Regions from separate parts of the Homo sapiens genome. Here region 2 is reported to be linked to region 1. Evidence: microRNA targets listed by miRTarBase, many of them from high-throughput screens and not tested one by one. Region 1 holds a microRNA gene; the other region holds the end of a gene's coding sequence.

Evidence for each region. Region 1 holds the annotated microRNA hsa-miR-4777-5p (UUCUAGAUGAGAGAUAUAUAUA, at 4,559-4,580, shown strand). A microRNA usually pairs through its seed, bases 2 to 8, with sites in the 3' UTR of a target mRNA and lowers its output. Matches are read on the target gene's strand: a 7mer-m8 pairs with bases 2 to 8, a 7mer-A1 pairs with bases 2 to 7 and ends in A, and an 8mer does both.
Region 2: miRTarBase lists CDC23 as a target of hsa-miR-4777-5p. Seed matches in the 3' UTR shown: 7mer-m8 at 1,899-1,905.

The regions. Positions count from the first base shown.
Region 1 is chr2:231,358,165-231,365,750 of GRCh38, forward strand. It overlaps MIR4777 (microRNA 4777), which reads left to right and starts at 4,544; the gene lies at 4,544-4,629. It overlaps ARMC9 (armadillo repeat containing 9), which reads left to right. Exons shown (of 25, transcript NM_001352754.2): 23 at 2,590-2,719. RefSeq lists a silencer at 2,333-2,627 and an enhancer at 2,505-3,148.
Region 2 is chr5:138,182,980-138,189,982 of GRCh38, reverse strand. It overlaps CDC23 (cell division cycle 23), which reads left to right. Exons shown (of 16, transcript NM_004661.4): 14 at 77-155; 15 at 231-350; 16 at 835-2,333. The coding sequence ends at 1,005. KIF20A (kinesin family member 20A) reads right to left here. Exons shown (of 19, transcript NM_005733.3): 7 at 6,993-7,003; 8 at 6,620-6,814; 9 at 6,402-6,513; 10 at 6,227-6,295; 11 at 5,878-6,021; 12 at 5,579-5,744; 13 at 5,307-5,471; 14 at 5,037-5,176; 15 at 4,786-4,888; 16 at 4,273-4,471; 17 at 3,931-4,022; 18 at 3,552-3,689; 19 at 2,260-2,887. The coding sequence ends at 2,570. Among named protein-coding and RNA genes, the nearest start is that of KIF20A, 7.4 kb to the right of the region's middle.

The DNA of each region.
Region 1 (7,586 bases):
CATTAAGCCAGGGTATGAATGAGGGGGAGGGGGATGAGCAGCAGGGACAGCAGGGAGTGGGCAGTGCTGGGCTGGGCATGGGCACCCCTGAGCCATGTTGCCTTCTGCTTCATTCCTTCCCTGCTCAGGAGCTTGCTCTGACTTCCTCCAGACAGTCCTGCTTCTCCATCCCTCCCCTCCACTTCAATTGATTGATTGATTGATTGATTGATTGATTGTAGAGAGAGGTGTCTCTCTGTGCTGCCCAGGCTGGTCTTGAACCCTTGGGCTCAAGCGATCCTCCCGCCTCGGCCTCCCAAAGTGCTGGGATTACAGGCATGGGGCCCCCTCCACTTCCCTTCTCTCACTCACCTTGCCCCAGGCCCATCCTGGCCCCAGGCAGCGCTCCCCACAGGTCTCCTTGCACACAGCTCGCTGCTGAGTCTGGCCTGTGCTGGGAACTAACGCCCCACCCAGAGACCCCGTGGAAACCCCCACCTTCACGCTGAGTTTCTTGAGGAAGAGCCTTTGCGCTTTGCGTTCAGTCAGCACCGCAGGGAAAACTCATGAGGAGGAACCTGTTGGACCCTCAAACTGCTTGATCGGTTGAGTGCAGGCCCAGAAAGTACATTCTAGGCAAAAGACAGCCCCAAATGCCAACAGGAAATAGTTCCCAAGGGAAAAGGCCAATAATATGGCTTAGCATTTTGCAGAACGTTGGCCTAAGGAAAGCTATTCTCATTTCCCCACCAACCAGGACTATCTTCAATATCAAAATCACATGCCTTGGGACTTCATAGCCCTGGGAGTTAAAATGCCCAGCCCTGTCTGAAATGGACCAGCAGGCAAGAGATACTACTGTCCCAGGAAGACCCCGGTGCACACCCATGGCTGCCCCATCTCCTAGCTCCTGGCTGTCTTAGTTAGGGGGGTCTCCTGTTTTTTTTTTTTTTTTTTTTTGAGATGGAGTCTCGCTCTCTCACCCAGGCTGGAGTGCAGTGGTGCGATCTTGGCTCACTGCAAACTCCGCCTCCCGGGGTTCAAGTGATTCCCCTGCCTCAGCCTCCTGAGTAGCTGGGATTACAGGCATGTGTTACCATACCCGGCTAATTTTTGTATTTTTAGTAGAGACAGGGTTTTACCATGTTGGCCAGGCTGGTCTCAAACTCCTGGCCTCAAGTGATCTGCCTGCCCCAGCCTCCCAAAGTGGTGGGATTACAGGCGTGAGCCACCGTGCTCAGCTGGTCTCTTGTTCTTGGTGGGACCTCTGAAAGTCTTCAGTGTGGCCTGTGCTGGAGGAAGTAGGAGAGGAGAAGGGGACAGTTGAACCAAGACCACCTCATGGTCTTGGGACACTCCAGCTCAGTTCCTCCTTTTTTATGACCACCCCGTCCCCTACGCTCACACCCCCTGGGAAGCTCCTGGTCCTGGTCCTAGAGGACTTGCCTGGCGTGGGCACAGCTTTGTGACTCCACACGTTGTAATGGGGTTCCCCTGCGTGTAGCCCAGCAATTCGGTGTGACTTCACTCAAGTATTCTCTTGTACACCTACGCTTTTTCTCCTGGCCTTATTCTAAGCACACTGAGCATGTGCCTCCTGTCCTGAAGCTCTATTTCTAGACCCAGATCCAGGTGGAGACCGCCCAGTGCCACCCGCTGGGTTCTGGTATCAGAAATAGATTCTCGTTTGGGTCAAAAGAGAATTATCTGGAAGTCAAAGCCCCTTGCTACAGGGAAACCTGCAGGGAAGATCCCTTTATATTTAAGATTAAACAGATCACATTGCAAAGCCACAGAGGAGCTGCTAAAATGAAAGAGCTGAGAGGAGCTTGGCCTAAGGGAGTCACGGATGCAGCCTCTGTCACAGTGTCGCTGCAGCAGTGACATGGACCCCTTCAGCTGTAGGAGAAGAGGAGAGGCGGGGTGGGGGAAGGGGTGCGTGGCATCTGAGATGCAGGAACATCTGTTCCCAGGCCCTTGGGGAGCCCTCCGTATGCTATGATGCTATCTGGGATTCTCCGTCTGCTTCCCCGTGAAGGGCTCCTGCGTGTCCCGGGTGGCCTGGTTCTGGGTGGGCATCAGCTACAGCACAAGTCACTGGGAGTTAGGGCACTTCCTGGCCACCCTGGGTGTACCGAGTGGTTCAGCATTAAGGAGCCTTGGGCTGCTCGGTGAGGAGCACCCTACCTCTCAGGTTGTTGGTTTTAGCAAATAAAACTACACACCACCCAGTTACATTTGAGTTTCAGATAAGCAAATGGGCCTCCACATTCTGTCTGGGGGCGCCTAGCCATGGCCCAGGGAGACAATTTGTTGTTCTGAGGGCTTTCCAGAGGCTGAGGGGTGCCAGGAAGGCTGAGCGGCCAGGGTGATCTGAACCTCCCTGGGCTGTGCCTGTCACCACCAGCAGTGTGCCTGCCATCCCCCGCTACCTGGCAAGTTCCCGGGCTGCACGAGTAAACAAGTATCCCAAGCCACAGGCGCCAGGGAGCCCGCAGGGCCTGGCCTGGGGTGCGTGCTTTTCTTGGCTTTCCAACCCAGCCCACGAGAGGGCATCCTTAGAGGGGCTCCAGAGCAGATGTGGACTGAACTTTCTCTCCTCCTCCCCAGCAGCCATCATCGCCAAGCCAGGAGAGTGGCTCCCAAGAGGACGCCAGGAAGAGCCTCGCCCAGCCCCCACGGGGACCCCCCGCCAGCCAAGGGAGGCGCCCCAGGACCCAGGCAATGGAGTGACCACCAGGTAAGGGGGATATCACAAGGCCTCGAACCTGACTCTCGGAGCTCTGGGAGTGGGCGCCCCACGCCGGATGCAGAGCACCCAGGAGACCTGGAAGGCTCCTCTGAGGCCCAGCCTCTGACAGGGGAGGCTAAGGAGCAGTGTCAAGATTCCCAGCGGAGTGCAGCCGCCACTCCTGACCACCTCGGAGGGCTGTGCTGCCTGAGAGCCATCAGTCAGACGGGAAGGACACAGCACTCAGAAGCATGCCCATGGGACTAGTTTTCAAAACTGCCAGGCGGACTTGTCCAGGGCTGGGTGATGGGGTGACTTAGGGACAGTGTCCTGTCAGCTTTTTGCATTTGGAGGAAGTGGGCTGTAGGGCAGAAAGATGGAGAAGGAGGTGAGTAAATGGTTTGGCTCAGAGGTCACTTCCTGAAACAGAAACTGGGCCTCCAGGCTGGGGCGTGGTGGCGCACGCCTGTAATCCCAACACTTTGGGAGGCTGAGGCAGGAGGATTGCTTGAGCCCAGGAGTTTGAAACTAGCCTGGGCAACATAGTGAGACCCTGTCTCAAAAAAAAAAAAAAAATCAAAAAACTAAAAAAAAAAAAAGAAAAGAAAAAACTGGACCCCCGAGCAGAAGAAAAAAAAAAATAGTGTCCTCTCTTCCACTGTGCCACGTGAGCACAGACTGGCCCTGTGGGTTATTAGGGGTTCTTTAGGGTCTAGAAAGGACCTTTCCAATCTCGCCAGCTCTTTCTTTTGGATCTGGAGAAACCTGCTCAGGGAGAGGGGCCTGGCCTGGGTCTCAGACCCTGCCTGTCCCTGACCACCAGGCATGCCAGCTGCCCCTCACCACTTCCTCCTGGCCATGAAGGAAGCCAACCTCCTGCGGTAAAATATGGGGCTGGAGCAGGCTCAGCTTAGTTCTGGGGGCCCCCGGAGAGGACAGGCAGGAAGACTGAGCAGAACCTGCACCCACTGGTGGAGAAAATCGGAGAGAGAAAGAGGCAGGAAGAGAAATCAATGGGGAGTGGCAGACAGGAGGAGGATGTAAGAGAAAGGGGGCGCAGACAAGTGTGCTGAGCTTCCTTGGGTGGGATGGGCTAGAAGCCGAAATCGGAACTGTGGGAAGGATGGGAAGGACTTCAAGACCTGGGCTAGGGAAGGGTGGGGGCAGTCCCAGCTATCTTTAAGAAGCACGGGGTCAAAGGTGGCTGCATTACTGGGGGAGGGGCCAAGCCTCTGGACTCCTCCAGTTCCACTGCCAACCTGCCTGGGGACCCAGGGACCTACCTCCCCTACCTGGGCCTCCTCCCCTCTTTCTGTGGCTGAAGAGGAGCTTGTCAGCTAGACCAGGGGTTCTCAGGCTCTCAGCATCCCCCTGAAATGGGGACTCAAAATGAGAGACCTCTGAGGAGTGGGCTAGAGCTATCTCATGCCCCCAGTCCAGACTGGATCCTCCCCTGCGGTTCAGCCAGGCCAAACCTACGCTTCCGGTATAGGCCACTTCTTTTTACTTCCTGCAAATGCTGAGTTCATTTCTGAGGCTCTCCACTGGGGACAGCCCTCTCTCCCCAGAAATAACTGTTTTCACAGTAGGTAGGCAGCCGACCCTGAGGGACCTCATTACATCAAGCAGCGTTGCCTAGCTGGCCCCCCAAGATTCTACTGAGCACAAAGACCCCTCAGGGTCCAACCCAGAGGTGCCCTCCCCTTGGTGTCAGTCACTGAAGCCAGCTCTTATTTTAAGCCTGGGAGTTCAGTGTGAGGAAGAAGAGGATGGAAGGAGGGAGAAGTACAAGTTGTTCCATCTTCCTCTTCCTCCCTCACTGGCAACGTCATCTAGAATATTTCGGCATTCTAGATGAGAGATATATATATACCTCATATGTATATGGTATACCTCATCTAGAATGCTGTAATATTCTAAATCACAAGTGGCCATCTCTTGTCAGGCTGACTTCAGCCCCAATTCAGGTCTCACTGAAGCATCCCTTCCTCCTGCCTGACCCCAAAGTGCGGGTCACGCCCTTCTGCCAGGCTCACAGAAGCCACAGTCCCTCCACGGGGCGGAGACCCCACTGTGTTGTCATGTGGCTGCCTCTCACTGCCTCAGAGACAAGCGCAGTGTGCAGGGCACAGAGAGCGTGCAGGGCCTGCTGGGTATACGGGGAATGCAGGGCTGCAGGGAGTGTGCACAGTGTGCAAGGTATTCAGGAAGTGCAGGGCTGCAGGGAGTGTGCAAGGAGTGCAGGGAATGCAGGGCATGCAGGAGTGTGCACAGAGTGCCAGGAGTGCAGGGCATCTGTGCTGTGCTTCTGCACCTGGCCTAGGTGGTTAGAGTACTTGTTGATGAACAAGTAGGAGAAAGGGAGAAAGAGTGGTTCTCTATGTGGCTTTGGTGGGGAACGTTTGTCCCCTCAACTTCCCCGAGCTCTGTTCTCTTGCTCTTTCAGGTGAGGTCTCATACCCAGAAGAAGAATTGGTGGATGGGCAGGAAGCCCTTGGGGCAGAGGTCTGGGGTCAGTGGTAGACTGAATGATGGCACTGTTACTTAGCCCAGGAAGCCCTTGGGGCAGAGGTCTGGGTCAGTGGTAGACTGAATGATGGCACTGTTTACTTAGCCCGGCTTTCAGGTGTTTTAAGGATAATGGCCACTCAAGCTCTGTGCCAGTGACTTCCAGCAACTGTCTTGCTGTAAAATTACTTTCTCGGAGGCTAGAGAATAAAAGTCTAGACCTGCCTGGCGCAGTGGCTCACGCCTGTAATCCCAGCACTTTGGGAGGCCAAGGCGGGCGGACAACGAGGTCAAGAGATCAAGATCATCCTGGCCAACATGGAGAAACCCCGTCTCTACTAAAAATACAAAAATTAGCTGGGCGTGGTGGCACGTGCTTGTAGTCCCAGCTACTTGGGAGGCTGAGGCAGGAGAATCGCTTGAACTGGGAAGCAGAGGTTGCAGTGAGCCGAGATCGCACCACTGCACTCCAGCCTGGACGACAGAGTAAGACTCCGTCTCAAAAAAAAAAAAAAAAAAAAAAAAAAAGCCCAGACCCTACAATCATGGTGCCTTCCCCCAACCCCCATGGTGAAATTTTCCTTTTCCTTTGTCAGCTTCTTAGACTCCTTAGATTAAGTAGCAGGATAAAACGAATGTTGACCAGCTTTAAAGATGTATTTATTAAGAAACAAATGCATTTATCCTGCGAAGAGCCAAAGTGCATCCCAAGAAGTATGTCAGTCCAGACCACAGAGGCTGAGTTGCACCCCGGAATGTGCAGGAAGGTGATGGCAGGGCTGCCTTGACTGTCACCTGTCAGTCCTTCTCAGCATGGCCCTGCCACTCCAGAAGAGCAGCCCCAGCCAGGTGTGGGGTGCTTGTGCCTGGAAGTTCACCTCCACGTGGCCTGAGGACAGGTGAGGGAGGTGGCTCTGTCTGAGGAGCTCCTCGCACTCAGGCCCAGGACAGGATCAGAAGCAAATGTCAAAAATCTTGTCCTGCCACAGATGAGAAGTGATTCTTTTGCAAGTGCTGTGACTTTTTTAAAATGAGAAGAGATTGTACATATGTCTACATGTATGCCTTTCCCCTCACGTTTGTCCCTGAGGATGGACAGCAGCTCCCAATGGCACATTCATGCATCCAGCTAAAGAAACAACACATGCTCATGCCTGGAATCCCAGCACTTTGGGAGGCCGAGGCGGGCGGATCACCTGAGGTCCAGGAGTTTGAGACCAGCCTGACCAACATGGTGAAACCCTGTCTTTACTAAAAATACAAAAATTAGCCGGGCATGGTGGTGCATGCCTGTAATCCCAGCTACTCGGGAAGCTGAGGCAGGAGAATCATTTGAACCCAGGAGGTGGAGGTTGCAGTGAGCCGAGATCACACCATTGCACTCCAGCCTGGACAACAGGGCAAGATTTCATTTCAAAAAAAAAAAAGAAAGAAAGAAAGTGGCCCTCGGCAGAGCATCAGGGAGCTGCCCCTTGGCCTGGCAGAGCCCACCCCGTGAGGCACCCTGACCACCTTGGGGGCTGCTTCAGGCAGTGCCTGTGTTGACCTAGGAGGCTGGGCCCCTATCATTGGATGCTCCAGCTGCTCTAGGAAGGATGCAGTGGGAGGTGGGGTGGACGGCTGTTGGTAAGTGTCAGCTGAGCCCCTGGTGGCCTCAGGGCCCTCCATCCTCCCAGCATGGTGAGCTCAGCAGCCTGGAGGCAGCCAGGAGCCAGGGCCAGGAAATGGCGCTGGTCTGGCCTGAGATGAGGCCAGATTAGGGCAGAGCAGAGAAACCATGTGGAAAGGAAGTCCAGGACGGCAGTCACCTATGACATAGGGGAAGTCACGTGCCGCAGAAACGCATGGGACTGAGTCCTGGAAAAAATGTAAAGGGTGATATACGGGAAAGTTGGGAGGTGCTCTGCAAGGTAGGCGATTGTTTATTAGAGCAGCCTGGCCCTTATATGATCTCAGCGTATCAATAGGAACATTGTGTTGGGAGGGAAGAGCCATAAAATGCCTCGGGAGATGCTGAGTCTTTCCCTGTGTTTGCAATGCTGCTGAGTCATAATCCGGCTGCTAAGCATCACCCAGCAGAGGATCCTGTGTCCCTTCTGTTTGCATTAAGCCCAAAGAAAAGCATTCAGGGCCCCTAGGCGACTCTGCCCAGAGGGTTCATAACCGGCTCTCAGTTATTGCTGCGGACATTTCATCTGGATTATAAGAAAACCCAGAAAGGGGCAGAGGTGGGGAAACGGGCCAGAACAGAATACAGCAGATAAAGGCAGATAGGAACCAGCCGCACACACAGCAGATGGGAACCAGCCGCACACACAGCAGATAGGACCCAGCCGCACACACAGCTCCCATGCCATGGGCACACACT
Region 2 (7,003 bases), not on the chromosome of region 1:
TTATGTACTTTTACTTTTTTTATCACTAAGTTGCTTTGGGATATCATTGGTATTTAAAGATCAGTTTCTTTTGTAGGCTTCATGAACAGTTGACTGAGTCAGAACAGGCTGCCCAGTGTTACATCAAATATATCCAAGATATCTATTCCTGTGGGGTATGTATCATACCATGAGAATTGTACTGCTGATATTATTACTGTCACCTCAGTAATTTTGCTTTCCCTTTCTAGGAAATAGTAGAACACTTGGAGGAAAGCACTGCCTTTCGCTATCTGGCCCAGTACTATTTTAAGTGCAAACTGTGGGATGAAGCTTCAACTTGTGCACAAAAGTGTTGTGCATTTAATGATGTGAGTATCAGTTCTTTAATAAAAGGTTTGAATTTTAGGCTAGAACATAAGATATTTAAGTGGAAAGCCTACCTTGGCCAGGCAAGCGGCTCACACCTATAATCCCAACACTTTGGGAGGCTGAGGCAGGAGGATCGCTTGTGTCCAGGAGTTCAAGACCAGCCTGGACAAAAAAGGGAGAGCTTGTCTCTACAAAAATTAAATTTTGCCAGGTTTGGTGGTGCATGCCTGTGGTCCCAGCTACTCAGGAGGCTGAGGTGAGAGGATCACTTGATCCTCTGCAGTGAGGTCGAGGCTGCAGTGAGCCTTGATCACACCACTGCACTGTAGCCTGGGTGACACAGTGAGACTCCATCTCAAAAAAAAAAAACAAGCAAGCCTCCCGCCTCCTTGATCTGTGGAACTTGTTTAACAGCATCTTAATAACTTGTTTTCGAGACTAGCTTTGGACATGTTTTGAAACATTTCCCTGACTTTGTTGCAGACCCGGGAAGAAGGTAAGGCCTTACTCCGGCAAATCCTACAGCTTCGGAACCAAGGCGAGACTCCTACCACCGAGGTGCCTGCTCCCTTTTTCCTACCTGCTTCACTCTCTGCTAACAATACCCCCACACGCAGAGTTTCTCCACTCAACTTGTCTTCTGTCACGCCATAGTTGGCTACTCTCAAGCCAGCACATTGTTAGACCCATCTTAATTAAGCCTTACCTCCATGTAAAGAACAGCACGTCTGTTCCAAGGACCTCAGCTCTTCTTGTTTCTACAGATGGCAACAGCTCCATAGGGACAGCTTGTATAATTACCTTCAGAGGCCAACTGACAGAATCCTGGCAGGAACAGACATTATCTTGCCAGTTAGAAGTACTTCTGTCTCACTTATGTCCAAAGAGTGGCTATAGATCTTGGCCTTCTTCCCTGAATGCTTTTTTTTTTTGGCCCCCAAGAAAGTCCCTTTTATAGCACTTTAGCACAGGCAATGCTACAGGAACAAAGTTTCAATGCTGCTGAGAGTGAAAGAAAGGAGGAAAGTCTGCCACTCTACCCTGAGCTGGCAGTAGGGCACTGAGTACCCTAGGAAGAAGTCAGAGCAATGGATACAAATGACCTTGCTCTTGGATTTGCTGAGCATGATCCCTATTCTGATGTCAGAGATTAGGTTTAAATGGAATAGAGCTATCCATTTGTTCTTACTCTCTAGGGAGACAATCTTCCAAAACAGTTTTGGGGGGGTCTTCTAAAGCTTTCAAATTGGAAGTAACTTTATTCAACTAGAGTTGAATAAAAGAAGGGCAAAAATAATCTCACAGAGCTTGGAACTGCTGATAGCCCTTACTGAGGGCAAAAGATGGCTATATTGTTAGCTATACTCCTACCAAAGCAAGCAAGGAGATAGGATTATAGATAATTTCACGGACATTTGGAAATAACATTGGTGATTATACAGACAAGAATAAACTCACTTCAAGCTGGTCTGTTTTAATAAATTTTCAACGTAATTGTCTATTTTTTTCCCTCCCATCTGCAACAGAATACATTTTTTTCAGCCTTTATCTAGATGAGGTAAAGGGAATCATTCTTATGGTGCTCTTGGAGAGTTTCAGGCCTGTGCATGTGTGTACAGCAGGAGGTAATATGCTATAATGTCTGCTGTAATATATTTGCACAGTAGATGCTATGGATCATTCTGAGCTCAGGGTCCAGACTTTATTCTTATTCCCAGAATTTTGTGTTACGTTTTTACCTCCTAACATATGACACTTCATCTTATATTAAGGAAGGTTTAGAATATCTAATACGACTTGAATTCATTTGTTACTAAGCCTTCTCAGGCAAGCTGTATACTAGTTACTGGTCTCCACTGCCATGCCTTTTCAAGGTTCCCATGGTCCAGAATGATGTTTGATTCTTAATTTTTCTGTCCCTTTTATAATTTGTTTTAATGATTTTGCTACATTTGGAATTCAATAAAAAATGTGAACAATAATATCTTTAATATAACTGTTTTTGTGTGCATAGAAATCATATAAGTAAATAAAAAAAAACAACAACATGAGATTACATAGGTGGTTATAATACAAAAGTGAGAAAAAAGCTAGTGTCTGAGTATTGCATCCTGGATATAATTCCTGATATATGGTAAAGCATAAAAGAGACCTATTTCTTCAGGAGAGTAGCTGACCCACCTCAGGGCCATGACTGCTCTTCTCTTTCCCCACAGCCTTAGTACTTTTTGCCAAAAGGCCCAGATTTGAGTAAAGGGGAACGCCGTGAGCGTAGGATCCGGGCATAAGGGCTGCAGTCTGTTGAGCTTTGGCAGGTTGGTGTTCGGGGAAGTAAATTTCGAAGGAATGGTTTCTTCCCTGGTGGTTGTTGGTTTGGTTGCTGATTTTCCTGGTTGGTACCAAGGCGCTTTTTGGCAGAAACCTGGCCTTGGAGTTTCAACACAGTATGATACTGCTCAGCAATACATGCTGCCTTCTTCCGAAGGTCCAGTTTCACTAGCACCATGTTGTTCTGCAGTTCAGCCAGAGTCTGGTCCTAAGGAAGATCAATAAAGTTATAGAAAACACTTTTGTCTGGTATATTAGAGAAACGAGAGGGCTAAGGGTAATACATACCATCCATTACTAGTTACTAACAACTGTTTCTTCAAAGATTAAAACTCTTTAAGGTCGGAGCTTATAACTGAATAAGGGGACATTTTCTGAGAACAAAACATAAGCAGTGCTGAATAGGACATCTTCTAACACATAAGGTAGTATGAGCTTGAGTAAATTTAATTTCTAAGTGCCTCAGTCTCTAAATGTCAAATTAAATGTTGAGTTTAGTTTAAGATACACAATTTTAACATTTTAATCTCTTTGGAATCAGGATGCATCTTACTGATGAGAAATTGTTACTTTTTTCTTAGTAGTACATAAAATAATGGTTTCTTATAATCAGTAGCATCTTAGATGAAATATGACAGTAACTACCTCCCTAAGGTGGTTGTGACAGAAAATGCCTATAAATTACTTAGCACAGTGCCTGGTACTTAGTAAATGCTTAACAAAGAATAGTTATTTTTATTTTGCAAATATACTGCTCTCACTATAAATTCAGCCTAAAAATCTTTACCTTTTTCTTCTGGTCCTCTTTCCTTTCTCACATATACACTGGAGTGGGCTGGTAGGACAGAAGTGGGTATATAGTTTGCCCTAACCTGTTTGATTAAGATGTCATCACAAGTGGTCAAGGCTTGACGAAGTTTTCCTGCCCCAGTGCTGTGGCAACAAGCTCTCTCTGCTGATTGGAGAGACTCACCAAGTTTCTGAAGCTCTGTCCGCAACAGCCTTATATTCTGAAAAAGGGGAAGTAGGAATCATATTGTGGCCAAGAGCAACCAGGATAATGATCTGGAGGGGTCAGGTAGCCATTTGAAGAGAAGTAAAATTAGAAAGGCTAGTCAGCTGAGTGAAATAGCCACTCTCCAGAACTGTGCACAAAAAACATCTTGTCTTCACATGAACCAGTGATAGAGTGTTGGATGTGGGAAATTGCCTTAGGTAAGAGTTTGGTAAACAGAGAATGGTGGTAATTACCTTCTGGCCCTCTTCTAACTTCTTGTCCACATCAATGGTGAAGGGCTTGGCTGAGGGTGGTGGTTCTAACATTTTCTGATACTTATGCAACTCTGAGGGAAGGAAACAGGAAACTTAAAATATGTGGGGTTTTTTTAGCCTTGGACTAACCTCTTTAACTGAGGTAACAGTAGCTTGCAGCAAATATAAAAAGTGAGGCTATGTGTATCCTAGATTGAAATGTCAGGGGGATGTAGCTTGCAGTTTAGGAAATTATGTTAGAGCAGGAGTTAGAAGGCCTGGGTTTAAGTAACAGCTCTTCCCTGAACCACTGTTATGTTTCCTGCCTGTCTCTTTCCTCACCTTCAGTGGTAGAGTTTAGCTCTGCTTTGCACTGCTGTAATTTAGCTTTAACCTCCTGAAGCTGCTGGGTGGAGGCAGAAGCTGCCAACCTTTGTGACCGCCGTAGGGCCAATTCAGACCCTGATTGCTGATGGGCCACTGACTGTTGTCTGGCTTCCTGCAAGAGAGCTTCTAGCTCTTCAATCTTTTCATCCCGCTCCTAAGAGGGAAGCAGAGAGCACAATTCTTTGCAGAGCCAGAAAAATATTGCTAAGACAGATGACTGAACAAACAAAGCACTTGTGACACTGATCCCTTGAAAACCTGTTGTTAGCACTTAATACGATTTCCTGGCCAACTAAACCCTTAATCAATTCACCAAACATAGATTGAACCCAAAGCACTATGGGGAATAGAGAAAAGGGAGTTATATATTCCTGCCCTTACTGGAGTAGTTTATAAAATCTCTTTACTTCAGGCAAGCTAGTGATGGAAATCTGAGCAGCTAATTGGAGCTGGCTCAGGGCAACTCACCTGAATCTCTTCTTGGTAAAAACTTGTCAGTGACTCCTTGAGGATATTTAGTTTTTCTTCATACATTTCCTCCAATAGTTCCTTTTGGGTGTCCAAATGTTCACTGTCAGAAACAGAGGAGAAAAGAGAGGTAAGTGAAGGTTCTGAGGAGTGAACTTGGGGAACAGATCTTGAGGCACAACTCCACCTAACTCCTTACTTCCCACCCTCTGTCTCAGGTGACAGAGCAAGAGGGGTCACTCAGCTAGTACCTGCACCACTGTTCCCGCTGTTGCATCTGTTCTACCATCTCATTGCAAATTTCATCTCGGAGATGCATCTCCAGCTGTAGCTTTTCCTGTCGTTCCTTCAAAAGCAGTGTCTTCATGGCTTCCACAACTTGTAGGAGCTCCTAGGAGAGACACACATGTCAGAGGTCATCAGATGCTCATGCCCTCAGAAGGCACAAGCCCACCTGGAAGGCACCATGGAAAAATGTGTAGCTACTAAGCTGCTACACTAAAGCTTTCTTGTATTCTCACCTCTTTGCCATACATGGAGATGTCAGCTTCATTTTCAATATCATCATCAAGGCCTGTGTCTGCCTTAGCCCCTTTCTCTAAGCTGGGGGATACCTGAAGACTATGTTCCTTGATGAACGAGTGCAGGGATGGGAATCCCAGTTGCATAGGTGGGGCATGCACAAGCTAGAGGGAAAAAAAATATCTTACTTGACTCCATAAGTAGTCCCTAGGAGCTTTCTTAGAGTTACCAGTTCCAAGTGCGCACACCCATCACACCTCTAGCTTCTCACCTGGCTAGCAATGGCTGAGAACTTGGCCACATGAAGAGTTTCATCATAGGTAGATGCACAGGGATTCACATTGACAATCATGCAGGAACGGCCTCGGCCTGTGAAGAAACCTTGGAACACTCGAGTCAACTTGCTGTCACGGAAGGGAACCAGGTTCTGCTTTGACCTGGCAGAGAATCAGAGATAATAGAGCTGTGAGCAGAACACCAGCCCTTTGGGTATCCTAGCACCATCCCCAGTGGTGTCCAGGAAGTCTCTTAGCAAATTGCAGAGCCCAGGAATTATAGTCAAAAGCTCACCGGTTCTGCTGGTTTTGACGAAGGGCAGCAATACAGCGGCCCAGGGTGTGTAGAGAGGTGTTAATGTTTCCTGCTTCCTTCAACCGTTCACCACTCTTCTGATCTTTGCAGCGCTCTGAGCCAGCCAGATCACAGAGTGACAGCCTAGAATGATGCACAGGATCTGACATAAGGGCCTCACATGTTATGAGCCTTCTGGCCCTTTGTATAATTCTGGAGAGGGGACGGCCCACTAAGAATCTCTGTACCCAAAGAAGGAGAACACATAGTTCCCCTGAGGACCTCCTCCATGCTTTCCCAACTATCATTTATGGCCAAGAAGCCCAAATTTCTAAATGGATAAACTTACTCGCTGATCTTGGGGACTATATCTCCTTCCCCCTGAAGGTGTAGGATCCTGATTGAGAAGATGCTGTGACTGGAAGTTAAGAAAAACAAAAAGTCATTGCACATTTTCCATGACCAGGCAGAGGACTAATGTTTCCTGGAACACAGTGAAGAGTTTATTCTTACAATCTACTCACCTGCGGCTGGAGTTCTGGTTGAGGTGGGTGCTGGCAAAGCTCTGGTTCTTACGACCCACTTTTAGGAGCTTCCAGGCCTCCTCAGCATCTTGCACATGAATCCAGTTGAGATCTGGGGCCAAAGGAGAGGGGTGTAAGATGGGAACATCCAACTCTTTTGCCAGTCTCTCCCCAGTTGCCCTCCAGGGTTCATGCCAGCTTTCCCCATGTTCCTTTACCTTTCACATAGGGATTGCCATTTTGATCCTCGCATAGCCGCAAAGTCTGCCTCTTGCGCTGTTGGCTAGGCGGTTCTAATAGGTCATAAAGCAGTTCGTTGTAGATCTCAAAGAATGAGATCCAGATGGAGAAGCGAATGTTTGCCGGGACAGGTAGTGGGGCAGTGTCTGGCTGTGCCCATCGATGACTTGTTTCTGGAGAAGAAGCCAATGTATAGGGCATCAACCTAGAGCAGTTCACCTCTCTTTTGGCCTGCAGGGGCCTTGGAAGGCAGACCTTAGATTGCAACCTCTGGTCTGTACTCCTGGCAGCTATTAGGAACAGGGAGTGAGTTCCTACTATTTTTTGGCAGAGCCCAGTCACGGTACATACCATCCAGCTGG